2 separate regions of the Homo sapiens genome follow, and region 2 is reported to be linked to region 1. Evidence: microRNA targets listed by miRTarBase, many of them from high-throughput screens and not tested one by one. Region 1 holds a microRNA gene; the other region holds the end of a gene's coding sequence.

Region 1 (4,572 bases):
GAGGGGTGTGGTCGGCAGTTCTGATGGGAGGGGCAAGAGCTGGAGGCAGTGTTTGGGGGAGGGCAGTTACAGCGGAGAAGGGAGCGGGGCCAAGCCCTAGGGTGGTGAAGGATGTTTGGAGGACAAGTAATGATCTCCTGGAAGGCAGGTAGGATCCAGCCCACGCTCTTCTCACTCATATCCTCCTCTTTCTGCCCAGGGCATCTGGATCCCTGATGGGGAGAATGTGAAAATTCCAGTGGCCATCAAAGTGTTGAGGGAAAACACATCCCCCAAAGCCAACAAAGAAATCTTAGACGTAAGCCCCTCCACCCTCTCCTGCTAGGAGGACAGGAAGGACCCCATGGCTGCAGGTCTGGGCTCTGGTCTCTCTTCATTGGGGTTTGGGGAGATATGACTCCCGCAAACCTAGACTATTTTTTTGGAGACGGAGTCTTGCTCTGTCACCCAGGCTGGAGTGCAGTGGCGTTATCTCGGCTCACTGCAACCTCCACCTCCTGGACTCAAGCGATTTTCATGCCTCAGGCTCCTGAGTAGCTGGGATTACAAGCGCCCGCTAATTTTTTTTTTTTTTTTGAGACAGAGTCTCGCTCTGTCACCCAGGCTAGAGTGAAATGGTGCGGTCTCAGCTCAGCCTCCCAGGTTAAAGCGATTCTTCTCCCTCAGTCTCCTGAGTAGCTGGGATTACAGGCGCGAGCCACCACGCCCGGCTAATTTTTGTATTTTTAGTAGAGATGGGATTTCACCATGTTGGCCAGGTTGGTGTCAAACTCCTGACCTCATGATCCGCCCGCCTCGGCCTCCCAAAGTGCTGGGATTACAGGTGTGAGCCACCGTGCCCGGCCTAATCTTTGTATTTTTAGTAGAGACAGGGTTTCACCATGTTGTCCAGGCTGGTACTTTGAGCCTTCACAGGCTGTGGGCCATGGCTGTGGTTTGTGATGGTTGGGAGGCTGTGTGGTGTTTGGGGGTGTGTGGTCTCCCATACCCTCTCAGCGTACCCTTGTCCCCAGGAAGCATACGTGATGGCTGGTGTGGGCTCCCCATATGTCTCCCGCCTTCTGGGCATCTGCCTGACATCCACGGTGCAGCTGGTGACACAGCTTATGCCCTATGGCTGCCTCTTAGACCATGTCCGGGAAAACCGCGGACGCCTGGGCTCCCAGGACCTGCTGAACTGGTGTATGCAGATTGCCAAGGTATGCACCTGGGCTCTTTGCAGGTCTCTCCGGAGCAAACCCCTATGTCCACAAGGGGCTAGGATGGGGACTCTTGCTGGGCATGTGGCCAGGCCCAGGCCCTCCCAGAAGGTCTACATGGGTGCTTCCCATTCCAGGGGATGAGCTACCTGGAGGATGTGCGGCTCGTACACAGGGACTTGGCCGCTCGGAACGTGCTGGTCAAGAGTCCCAACCATGTCAAAATTACAGACTTCGGGCTGGCTCGGCTGCTGGACATTGACGAGACAGAGTACCATGCAGATGGGGGCAAGGTTAGGTGAAGGACCAAGGAGCAGAGGAGGCTGGGTGGAGTGGTGTCTAGCCCATGGGAGAACTCTGAGTGGCCACCTCCCCACAACACACAGTTGGAGGACTTCCTCTTCTGCCCTCCCAGGTGCCCATCAAGTGGATGGCGCTGGAGTCCATTCTCCGCCGGCGGTTCACCCACCAGAGTGATGTGTGGAGTTATGGTGTGTGATGGGGGGTGTTGGGAGGGGTGGGTGAGGAGCCATGGCTGGAGGGAGGATGAGAGCTGGGATGGGGAGAATTACGGGGCCACCTCAGCATGTGAAGGGAGGGAAGGGGCTGCCTGTGCCCCACCTTGCAGGGTCTGTGCACTTCCCAGGATTAGGGAAAGACCGGGTAGGGTCTGTCTCCTGGCATCACATCTCCCCCTGCTACCTGCCATGATGCTAGACTCCTGAGCAGAACCTCTGGCTCAGTACACTAAAGCTCCCTCTGGCCCTCCCACTCCTGACCCTGTCTCTGCCTTAGGTGTGACTGTGTGGGAGCTGATGACTTTTGGGGCCAAACCTTACGATGGGATCCCAGCCCGGGAGATCCCTGACCTGCTGGAAAAGGGGGAGCGGCTGCCCCAGCCCCCCATCTGCACCATTGATGTCTACATGATCATGGTCAAATGTGCGTGGCTGAGCTGTGCTGGCTGCCTGGAGGAGGGTGGGAGGTCCTGGGTGGAGGAGCCCACAAGGGGCATGAAAGGGGACCAGGATGTATGTAGACCCAGGAGCCCTAGTATGTTAGGAGCCTCAAAACCTTCTTGTATCCCTTTTACAGTCAAAGTCCAAAGCCACTCTTGAGGAACACTCTTGTACAAAATTAAGCTGGGCACAGTGGCTCATGCCTGTAATCCCAGTACTTTTGGAGGCTGAGGTGGGAGGATCCCTTGAAGCCAGGAGTTCAAGACCAGCCTGGGCAACATAGTGAGATCCTATCTCTACAAAAAATAAAAAAATTATCTGGGTGTGGTGGTGTGTGCCAGTAGTCCCAGCTACTCAGGAGAGGCTGAGGCAGGAAGATCACTTGAGCCTAGTTTAAGGTTGCAGTAAGCTATGATTGCACCACTGAAATCCAGCCTGGGTGACAGAGCGAAACCTCATCTCAAAAAAATAAAAAAGCAAACAAAAAGAAAAAAAAAATTAAAAGGGAAACTAGAAGAGATGCCAAAGGTTCTGGCTGAAGACCCCAGAGTCTGGTGCTACTTCTCTACCACCTGAGGGCTTTGGGCTGTCCCTTGGGACTGTCTAGACCAGACTGGAGGGGGAGTGGGAGGGGAGAGGCAGCAAGCACACAGGGCCTGGGACTAGCATGCTGACCTCCCTCCTGCCCCAGGTTGGATGATTGACTCTGAATGTCGGCCAAGATTCCGGGAGTTGGTGTCTGAATTCTCCCGCATGGCCAGGGACCCCCAGCGCTTTGTGGTCATCCAGGTACTGGGCCTCTGTGCCCCATCCCTGCCTGTGGCTAAGAGCACCCTCCTGCAGAGGGTGGGAAGGAGAGATGAGTCCAGTATGCCAGGCCCCTCACGGAAGGCTGCATGCTGGGCTGGGGAGGGGCCACCATCCTGCCTCTCCTTCCTCCACAGAATGAGGACTTGGGCCCAGCCAGTCCCTTGGACAGCACCTTCTACCGCTCACTGCTGGAGGACGATGACATGGGGGACCTGGTGGATGCTGAGGAGTATCTGGTACCCCAGCAGGGCTTCTTCTGTCCAGACCCTGCCCCGGGCGCTGGGGGCATGGTCCACCACAGGCACCGCAGCTCATCTACCAGGGTCAGTGCCCTCGGTCACACTGTGTGGCTGTCTGCTTACCTCCCCCAACCCCGGTGGACTAGGGTCCCTTTCTCTGATGTTCCCTCAACTGTCACCTCTCAAGGAAACCCCATTATCCCTACAAAAAATTCTTACTGCCTTCCAACCCCTGTGACCCCATTCTCTCCACGGTGACTGTGTCATACCCCAAAGGTGACCTCTGTTTTTCTCCTGTGACCCTGTCACCTTCCATGGAGTCCCCATCCCAGATCCGTGAGTGACCCCCATCATGACTTTCTTTCTTGTCCCCAGAGTGGCGGTGGGGACCTGACACTAGGGCTGGAGCCCTCTGAAGAGGAGGCCCCCAGGTCTCCACTGGCACCCTCCGAAGGGGCTGGCTCCGATGTATTTGATGGTGACCTGGGAATGGGGGCAGCCAAGGGGCTGCAAAGCCTCCCCACACATGACCCCAGCCCTCTACAGCGGTACAGTGAGGACCCCACAGTACCCCTGCCCTCTGAGACTGATGGCTACGTTGCCCCCCTGACCTGCAGCCCCCAGCCTGGTATGGAGTCCAGTCTAAGCAGAGAGACTGATGGGCAGGGGAGGTGGGACCTTCAGCCCAGGGTCCACTGTGGGGGCAGAGGGAGTGGCAGAGACACCGGGGTTCCTTCCCCTAATGGGTCACCTTCTCTTGACCTTTCAGAATATGTGAACCAGCCAGATGTTCGGCCCCAGCCCCCTTCGCCCCGAGAGGGCCCTCTGCCTGCTGCCCGACCTGCTGGTGCCACTCTGGAAAGGCCCAAGACTCTCTCCCCAGGGAAGAATGGGGTCGTCAAAGACGTTTTTGCCTTTGGGGGTGCCGTGGAGAACCCCGAGTACTTGACACCCCAGGGAGGAGCTGCCCCTCAGCCCCACCCTCCTCCTGCCTTCAGCCCAGCCTTCGACAACCTCTATTACTGGGACCAGGACCCACCAGAGCGGGGGGCTCCACCCAGCACCTTCAAAGGGACACCTACGGCAGAGAACCCAGAGTACCTGGGTCTGGACGTGCCAGTGTGAACCAGAAGGCCAAGTCCGCAGAAGCCCTGATGTGTCCTCAGGGAGCAGGGAAGGCCTGACTTCTGCTGGCATCAAGAGGTGGGAGGGCCCTCCGACCACTTCCAGGGGAACCTGCCATGCCAGGAACCTGTCCTAAGGAACCTTCCTTCCTGCTTGAGTTCCCAGATGGCTGGAAGGGGTCCAGCCTCGTTGGAAGAGGAACAGCACTGGGGAGTCTTTGTGGATTCTGAGGCCCTGCCC
Region 2 (3,000 bases), not on the chromosome of region 1:
AATGCTTAGCCACATTTGAAAATATGCATCTTGATTCAGCCACTTAGTTTGATGTCAGAGCTCTGTATTTTTAGATTTTCCATTTTTGTATTCTATTATGCGAGTTTCAAAGAGACCAGTCTGAGTTTTTGAATACTTCTTAGATTGTCTACATGCTTATTAAACAGACTTTTCTTCAACTTAATAATAAGAGCCACACCTTTTACAACTCTGGAAGGCACTATTTATTTTATACTTTGTGTGAACGGGGCTCCTGGAGTCTCGAATACCTGATATTGCCTGATCATAAACAAAAGTGCAGCTTATATGTGAGAAGTGGTCTGCTTTTTTTCTTACTCATGTTATTCTTCAACAACTCTTTCTACAGTGTTTCATTTAGCAGCCTTCAAATTAAAGCTTTGCAAAATGCAGTTGAAAAGGAAGTCCAAGCAGAAGACAATATCTACATTGAGAATAGTCTTTATGCCACGGACTAAGACCCAGTGGTGCTCTTTGAGAGTTTACGCCCATGAGTGCAGAAGACTGAACAGACATCAGCACATCAGACGTCTTTTAGACCCCAAGACAATTTTTCTGTTTCAGTTTCATCTGGCATTCCAACATGTCAGTGATACTGGGTAGAGTAACTCTCTCACTCCAAACTGTGTATAGTCAACCTCATCATTAATGTAGTCCTAATTTTTTATGCTAAAACTGGCTCAATCCTTCTGATCATTGCAGTTTTCTCTCAAATATGAACACTTTATAATTGTATGTTCTTTTTAGACCCCATAAATCCTGTATACATCAAAGAGAATAGTCCCTGGAAACATAGCAAATGAACTTCTATCTTGGCCATCACAGCTGTCCAGAAGAGGGGAATCTGTCTTAAAAACCAGCAAATCCAACGTGAGACTTCATTTGGAAGCATTGTATGATTATCTCTTGTTTCTATGTTATACTTCCAAATGTTGCATTTCCTATGTTTTCCAAAGGTTTCAAATCGTGGGTTTTTATTTCCTCCGTGGGGAAACAAAGTGAGTCTAACTCACAGGTTTAGCTGTTTTCTCATAACTCTGGAAATGTGATGCATTAAGTACTGGATCTCTGAATTGGGGTAGCTGTTTTACCAGTTAAAGAGCCTACAATAGTATGGAACACATAGACACCAGGGGAAGAAAATCATTTGCCAGGTGATTTAACATATTTATGCAATTTTTTTTTTTTTTTTTGAGATGGAGCTTTGCTCTTGTTGCCCAGGCTGGAGTGCGATGGTGAAATCTCGGCTCACTGTAACCTCCACCTTCCGGGTTCAAGCAATTCTCCCGCCTCAGCCTCACGAGTAGCTGGGATTACAGGTGTCCGCCACTATGCTCAGCTAATTTTTTGTATTTTTTTAGTAGAGACAGGGTTTCATCATGTTGGCCAGAATGATCTCGAACTCCTGACCTCAGAGGATCCAGCCTCCTTGGCCTTCCAAAGTGCTGGGATTACAGGCATGAGCCACCGTGCCTGGTCCATTTATGCAATTTTTATTACACGTGTGTCATGGTGCTAAGCATTTAAACAACCATCAGGCTTTCTGAACAAATTTTTAGAACCAAGAAGATCAGCAATAAAAGAAAAAAAAAAGGCGGGAGTAGGGAAAAGTCTGCCTTTTCTGCCTTATAAGTTACATTGCAGATATAAGTGTTTGAAACTCACTAGTTTTGACCCAAATTCTAAATCGCCTCCAAACCACTTTCATGTTTAAAATTGTTTAGGAGGCTAGCGCCGTGGCTCATGCCTGTAATCCCAGCACTTTGTGAAGCCAAGGTGGGCAGGTAGCTTGAGCCCAGAAGTTTGAGACCAGCCTGGGCAACATGGCAATACCCCATCTCTATTAAGAAAAAAATTTAAGGAAAAAAAAAAAAGATAAAATTGTTTTGGAAAGGCAAAGTGTCTTTCTCATATCTAATCAATTCCTGTATTTTTTTTTTTTTTTTTTTTACAATTCAATTAGGCTTATTGTAAGGATATCTTTAGTCAGTATAAAAATATATAAAAAACAATTATACTAAACCAGTATAATTGTTTAGAAGTATATATTTGCCGGCCGGGCATGGTGGCTCATGCCTGTAATCCCAGGGCTTTGGAAGGCTGAGGTGAGTGGATCACTAGAGGTCGGGAGTTTGAGACCAGCCTGACCAACATGGAGAAACACTGTTCTCTACTAAGTATAGATTTGCAAGGGCTAGATTTGTCAGAAAAGAAACATTTCTACATGAACAGTTAAGGCTGGGTATTAATTTCAATTTCAGTTTGAGTAAACTCTGAAATAATTCATGGTTGAGGTTCAGAGCTACCCATACCATAGTTGTCTGGGGCAACAGGATGCTTGCTTTCAGAGGAAACTTTTTGTTTTTGTTTTTGTTTTTTTGAGATGGAGTTTTGCTCTTGTCACCCAGGCTGAAATGCAATGGCACAATCTTGGCTCACTGCAACCTCCACCTCCCAGGTTCAAGTGATTCTCCTGCCTCAGCCTCCTGAGTAGCTGGGATTACAGATGCCCGCCACAACGCCCAGCTTATTTTTAGTAGAGACAGGGTTTCACCATATTGGCCAGGCTGGCCTCCAACTCCTGACCTCAGGTGAGCCACCCGCTTTGGCCTCCCCAAAGTGTTGGGATTACAGGCATAAGCCACCGCGCCCAGCCAGAGGCAACATTTTTTAACGCAGTTATCATTCTAGGAAATTTATAGGTCCTTTGAAGGAAAATTCTGTGGGCAAATAAGATTGTGATACATGGTATTTCAGTTTTCCCAAATGTGGCCAGCCCGATCTGGTCAAAAATTTTATTTTTTAAAAGCTATAGTGTCTTTTTTTCTTAAATTTGAGGCAACATGCACAAAATTGGAGATTTGAAATTAAAGCCAAGATTTGTAGTTTCTCTGGAAAGACCTGGCAAGATTGGACTGGATTGCTATGTGACCAGGGTCCCACTAGATGGGGCTGCATCCTCTAATCCCCAAATCCTTATGT

The links. The annotated mature microRNA hsa-miR-4728-5p reads UGGGAGGGGAGAGGCAGCAAGCA and lies in region 1 at 2,784-2,806, shown strand. An mRNA with a match to its seed (bases 2 to 7 or 8) in the 3' UTR can be bound and repressed. Matches are read on the target gene's strand: a 7mer-m8 pairs with bases 2 to 8, a 7mer-A1 pairs with bases 2 to 7 and ends in A, and an 8mer does both.
Region 2: the mRNA of HAVCR1 is a reported target of hsa-miR-4728-5p. The part of its 3' UTR that is shown has no 7-base or 8-base seed match.

Annotation. Positions count from the first base shown.
Region 1 is chr17:39,723,713-39,728,284 of GRCh38, forward strand. It overlaps MIR4728 (microRNA 4728), which reads left to right and starts at 2,783; the gene lies at 2,783-2,849. ERBB2 (erb-b2 receptor tyrosine kinase 2) reads left to right here. Exons shown (of 27, transcript NM_004448.4): 19 at 200-298; 20 at 1,014-1,199; 21 at 1,337-1,492; 22 at 1,615-1,690; 23 at 1,995-2,141; 24 at 2,850-2,947; 25 at 3,103-3,291; 26 at 3,583-3,835; 27 at 3,977-4,572. The coding sequence ends at 4,332. RefSeq lists an enhancer at 2,591-3,563.
Region 2 is chr5:157,027,209-157,030,208 of GRCh38, reverse strand. HAVCR1 (hepatitis A virus cellular receptor 1) reads left to right here. Exons shown (of 9, transcript NM_001173393.3): 9 at 368-796. The coding sequence ends at 476. Among named protein-coding and RNA genes, the nearest start is that of HAVCR1, 30 kb to the left of the region's middle.